2 linked regions of the Homo sapiens genome follow. The protein of the gene in region 1 purifies or fractionates together with the protein of each later gene. This does not show direct contact. Each region holds a gene or a part of one and is shown in the gene's direction. Other genes may lie near its edges. The genes, in order: ZNF286A and ECI2.

Evidence for each region.
Region 2: the proteins of ZNF286A (region 1) and ECI2 purify together in Homo sapiens (affinity purification with mass spectrometry; one large-scale study listed by BioGRID and IntAct). This does not show direct contact.

What each region holds. Positions count from the first base shown.
Region 1 is NC_000017.11:15,716,417-15,719,019, forward strand, and holds part of ZNF286A (zinc finger protein 286A), read left to right. Parts: coding exon 1-874; 3' UTR 875-2,603. UniProt on the Homo sapiens protein: May be involved in transcriptional regulation.
Region 2 is NC_000006.12:4,118,576-4,122,410, reverse strand, and holds part of ECI2 (enoyl-CoA delta isomerase 2), read left to right. Parts: intron 1-364; exon of another isoform or gene 365-462; intron 463-3,135; coding exon 3,136-3,225; intron 3,226-3,835. UniProt on the Homo sapiens protein: Able to isomerize both 3-cis and 3-trans double bonds into the 2-trans form in a range of enoyl-CoA species. Has a preference for 3-trans substrates.

The sequences.
Region 1 (2,603 bases):
GAAAAAGCAGAGAACTTATAAAGAGAAAAAACCTCATAAATGTAATGATTGTGGTGAACTCTTCACCTACCATTCAGTGCTTATTCGACACCAGAGAGTCCATACTGGAGAGAAACCCTATACCTGCAATGAATGTGGGAAATCTTTTAGCCACAGAGCTAATTTAACTAAACACCAGAGAACTCATACTAGAATTCTCTTTGAATGCAGTGAATGCAAGAAAACCTTCACAGAAAGCTCATCCCTTGCAACACATCAGAGAATTCACGTTGGAGAGAGACCTTATGAATGCAATGAATGTGGGAAAGGTTTTAATCGAAGTACACATCTTGTGCAGCATCAGTTGATTCATACTGGAGTGAAGCCTTATGAATGTAATGAATGTGATAAAGCTTTTATTCATTCATCAGCACTCATTAAACATCAAAGAACTCATACTGGAGAGAAACCTTATAAATGTCAAGAATGTGGGAAAGCCTTTAGCCATTGCTCATCCCTAACTAAGCATCAGAGAGTTCATACTGGAGAAAAGCCATATGAATGCAGTGAATGTGGAAAAACTTTTAGTCAGAGCACACATCTTGTTCAACATCAGAGAATTCACACTGGAGAGAAACCCTATGAGTGTAATGAATGTGGGAAAACCTTCAGCCGGAGCTCCAATTTTGCTAAACATCAAAGAATTCATATTGGAAAGAAACCGTACAAATGTAGCGAGTGTGGAAAAGCCTTCATTCATTCATCAGCTCTCATTCAACATCAGAGAACTCATACCGGAGAGAAACCCTTTAGATGTAATGAGTGTGGGAAAAGCTTTAAGTGCAGTTCATCTCTCATCAGACATCAAAGAGTTCACACTGAAGAGCAACCCTGAAAAATTACTGAATGTGAAGAAATGTAAGTTGGTTTTATCACTGTATTAAATACTTGAGTGTTTAGGTGGAAGGCGCATCCATAATATGCATGTGAGGACCAATTCTGTATGCATCTAATTTCATTTGCGTAATACATAGTTTTGAGCCATAAGCAGGTTCTTTATGTCCGTTAATTTGATAATTATGAAATCTAGCCAGCGATTTCAAAATTTTAATCTCCAACGTCCCAAATAGCTATCTGTGGAAATTCAAGAAGTCCCTGAGAGTAGGTAGCAGTACGAACATTGTGAAATCCAGTTTTCCCCTCTCTTGTTTATGTCAGAGCTTTGTTGTAAGCCTCTCACTTTGTAAGGAAATTCTTATTGGGTAGGTTAGGCTGAGGGCTTACATCCTTATCATCAGGAAGACACAATGTTGTTATTTATTACTCCTTGAGATCTAGATACACATATGGTATAATTCATCTAGAGTGTAATTTCTTTTATATTAGCCTTAAAAACCAAAAATGCTGGGTTCAAAGTCCTTAGAATTCCCTTCCTCCCTCAACAAGCTGCTGTCTATGTTGATGACCATAACTGGGATGTATAATATTTACAGACAACTCTAAGTTACGTTCACATGGATTATGTACATCATTGATTTTTTTTTTTTTTTTTTTTTGAGACAGAGTCTTGCTCTGTTGCCCGGGCTGGAGTGCAGTGGCGCGATCTCGGCTCACTGCAACCTCCACCTCCCAGGTTCATGCCATTCTCTTGTCTCAGCCTCCCAAGTAGCTGGGACTACAGGCACCTGCCAGTACGCCTGGCTAATTTTTTTTGTATTTTTAGTAGAGATGGGGTTTCACCATGTTAGCCAGGATGGTCTTGATCTCCTGACCTCGTGATCTGCCTGCCTCGGCCTCCCAAAGTGCTGGGATTACAGGCATGAGCCACCATGCCTGGCATCATCATTGATTTATGTCATTGTTATCCCTCTACCGCGGAGACCTTCTTTCATTTTCCATTTCCCTGGGAGTTCACGTGAAGTAGTGAATGGGTCAAAATCTTAACAGTGGTTGTTGATCAAGTCCTTCCTTTCTTATCCTTGGCACTGAATAAATCTTTGGTTTTCCATAATCAAAGGGTGAGGGAGACTTCTTTTGTCTACATTATTCAGCTTTCTGAAAGCTATGCTGTGTCCATTTGAGAAAAAGCCCCAGGGATATTGAAGGTCTGAGAAGTTGAGTGGTTCAGTGTGTTATTATATTTAGGGTCCCAGTAAAGAAGAACTGAAGCAACTGTGAGACACCAGGGCATACTTCCCTGTATGAGTGGAAAACAAGGCACGGAAAATAGCTCACAGGATAGTCCTCAACTGACTTGCTTGAGGATAAGCAGCTTCCCTTCGTGAAGAAGTTGCCATTTCTCTGGCCTTCATATTTATCTACTTTTTGTTATTGTTGTCTGTATCGGTTCAATCTCACACTGCTATAAAGAAATGCCTGAGACTGGGTAACTTATAAAGAAAAAAGGTTTAATTGGCTCATGGTTCCATGGGCTGTACAGGAAGTATGACTGGGGAGGTCTCAGGGAGCTTTTACTCATGGCAAAAGGCAAAGCCAGAGCAGGTATCTTCACAGGGCTAGAGCAAGAGGAAAAGAGAGAGGGGAGGTGCTACACACTTTTTATGCAACCAAATCTCATGAGAACTCTATCACGAGACAGCAGTAGGGGGACAGTGCTAAATCAT
Region 2 (3,835 bases), on another chromosome or scaffold:
CGTCTCTACTAAAAATACAAAAATGAGCTGGGTGTGGTGGTGCACGCCTATAATCCCAACTGCTCGGGAGGCTGAGGCAGGAGAATCGCTTGAACCCGGGAGGCGGAGGTTGCAGCGAGTTGAGATTGCGCCACTGCACTCAAGGCTGGGCAACCGAGCAAGACTCCGTCTCAAAAAAAAAAAAAAGCAAAGAAGGATTGGTTCCCATTTTACAAATGAGAAAACTGTGGTACAGAGAGGGTAAGAAACTTTCCCAACGTCCCTAAGTAGTCTGACGCCAGAGCCTAAACCCTTAACTCCACCTGCTGCTCTCTTTCTGAAAATCAGCATTTTAAATGCTGCTTACTGGCAACTTTGCATGTACCTGTTTGTGTCCCTTTAGCTGTTGTTGGCAGGTTTCTCAGTTTCCTGCTTGTATTCCTTAGGCTGTGTCTTCTGGGTACATTTTTTTGAATAAGTTTTCTTTTGGATAAAAAAAGAAGATACATGACATTAACAGAAACTTTTAAAAATATTGTGATTATTTTTATGTATATGCTGCATATGTTATAGATTTATATCTTCTAACAGTTATATAGTAAAAACAACAGCGTGTCTGATTATAGGAAATGAAATCTAAATATTCTTTTACATATTATGAATTTTAAATTAACATTCTTTCATAATTTATTCATTAAGAAACACAAAAATATGTCTTAAATGTAAAAAAAAAAAAAACTAAAAATGACTATATACTAAATAACCAATATTGAATTAATTCCAGTAGTTAAAGCCAACCAAAAAAACCACTGGGGCAAAATCAAGACAAATGACAGATTGAGGAAACAATTTTTCAACTCATGTAACAAAAGCTGATCTCTCCACGATACTTTTTAAAGTTTGTCTATAAAGCGATAGATCCACAAGCTAAAATAAAAATGGGCAATGGTGAGGAATGAATAGGTCAGACAAAATGAAATATAAAGGGCTATTAAAACCATATGAGAGAAACCACTGAGAAAATGAAAAGATAAGCCATAGACCAGGAGAAAAGATTTGCCTGACGCTCTAATAAAAGACTTGCAATCTGAATGTGTATCTTACAACTATATAATAGGAAGGTAAACAGCCTAACTTAAAAAAATAGTGGAGAAAATATCTTAACAGTTGCTTCACCAAAGAAAATATACGTATGTCTAATAAGTACATGGTAAGAGACTTAATACCATTAATGGTTAGGGACATGTAAATTAAAACCACAGTGAGACCCCACTACATACATACTAGCATGGTTAAAATGAAAAAGACTTAATAGCTAGGTTTAGTGAGGATGTGGAGCAATTGGAACTTTCATACATTGCTGGTGGGAATGTCAAATGGTACAACCACTCTAGAAAACAGTCTAGCAGCTTCTGAGCTAAATATACATTTACCACACAGACCAGCCATACCACTTAGGTATTTACCTATGATAATTTAAAAGAGATTCACCCAGTGACCTGTACACAAGTGTTCCTAACTGCCTTTTTGTTAACATTATCTGAACATTTTTATTTTTAAATTTTTTTTCAGTTTCATTGAGGTATACTTGACAAATAAGAATTGTACAGTCAGGTGCTGCATAACAACATTTTAGTCAATGGCAGACTGCATGTAAAACGCTGGTCTCCTAAGATTATAACACCATATCTTACTATACCTTTTCTTTTTTTTTTTTCACTCTGTCATCCAGGCTGGAGTACAGTGGCATGATCTCGGCTCACTGCAGCCTCCTCCTCCCGGGTTCAAGCAATTCTTGTGCCTCAGCCTCCCGAGTAGCTGGGACTCCAGGTGCACACCACCACACCAGGCTAATTTTTGTATTTTTAGTAGAGATGGGGTTTCACTACGTTGGCCAGGCTGGTCTCGAACTGCTGACCTCAGGTGATTTGCCCACCTCTGCCTCCCAAAGTGTTGGGATTACAGGCATGAGCCACCACACCCGGCCTACCTTTTCTATGTTTGATATATTTAGATACACAAATGCCATTTGTTATAACTGCCTAGAGTATTAAGTATAGTAACATGCTGTCCAAGTTGGTAGCCTGGAAGCAGTAGGGATTACCACATAGCTAGGTGTGCAGTAGGCTGTGGCATCCAAGTATATGTAAGTATACTCCATGATATTGGCACAATGACAAAATTGCCTAATTATGCATTTCTCAGAACATATCCCCATTGTTAAGCAACACACGACTAGATATATTTAAGGTGTTCAACTTGTTTTTCATAGCAGCCTTCTTCATAGTAGCCTTTCATACGTTGCTAGTGGCAGTGTCAAATGGTACAACCATTTGAATGCTAGAAACAACACCAATGGCATTAACTGGTGAATGATAAACATATTATTGTGCATCCATACAAAGGAATACTACTCAGAAATAGCGAGGAACAAACTACTAATACATACAACAGCATGGTGACTCTCAGAAGTCAGACTCAAAATGCTACAGAATGTAGGATTCCACTTATACAGCATTCTATAAAAGTCAAAACTGTAGGGACAGAAAACAGATTAGCAGTTGCTTGGGGGTGGGAGGGAGGGACTGACTACAGAAGGGCCCCCGGAACCTTTCAGGGTGGCTGAAATGTTCCGCATGTCAGTAGTGGTGGTGGCTATGTAACTCTCTATTTGTTCAAACTCATCCAACTATACACTTTTAAAGGGTGAATTGTGTGTGCATATTAACCACATAATCTTAATTTTTAAATAAATATTATTAAGTATTGTGAAGTTATAAGCAAATCGTGATTTTTAAAAATAACACATGAAGCCAGGCATGGTGGCTCACGCCTGTGATCCTAGCACTTTGGGAGGCCGAGGCAGGTGGATCACCTGAGGTAAGAAGTTTGAAACCAACCTGGCCAACAGGGCGAAACCCCGTCTCTACGAAAAATACAAAAATTAGCCAGGCATGGCAGCGCATGCCTGTAATCGTAGCTGCTGTGGAGGCTGAGGCAGGAGAATCGCTTGAACCCAAGGGGTGGAGGTTGCAGTGAGCCGAGATCGCGCCACTTCACTGCAGCCTGGGCAAAAGAGCGAAACCCTTTGTCTCAAAAAAAAAAAAAAAAATCACACATGAAAAGATGGTTTTCTTTTCTCTCCTGCCTCTGCAGGCAACATTTCATACACCATTTAGTCACCTAGGCCAAAGTCCGGAAGGATGCTCCTCTTACACTTTTCCGAAGATAATGAGCCCAGCCAAGGTAACTTTTGGAATGTTTAAATATAAAATTTTATGAGTCATCTCAAGAAAGAAGGAAGAGTAATCTCATATACTCTCCCTTCTTTCCCTTGGTAATATGGACAAAAGAGAAGCTAATGATTTGCTTTTCAACTCTTTAAGAGTTTTACCAATGGAGGAATCAGGCTATGGGAAGTATCTGCTATGCAGGAAAATTAGAAATTCTCTCTGCAGTTCCCAGAACTGGGATCCTCCTCTTCAGCTGGCTGCTTAGTGCTAGCTGCACTGCAAGCAGCACAGCACCTCAGCCTTGCAGCTGTGTGGCATTAGTCACTTGAAGGACCAGGGCTGTGCCAGCCTCCCTTGGTCCCCTGAGTTTGGAGGCCACTCGGTTCCTTTATGGATGACCAGTATCTCCTAAGGAGAGACATGATGACGTCTTCACTTTCAGAGTTACAGTAAGTACCAACAGATGGGAGGTTTTGTGGGGGCTCACGGCTGCCAGAGCCACCCCCAATCACAGCAGCCCTTCCATCAGCCTGCTCACGGGTGTATTCTCTCCCAGGCTGGTTAAGTGGCTGCTCAGGTCTTTCACTGTGTTTCCTAGTTGCCCACGCCCTGTGGCATGACTC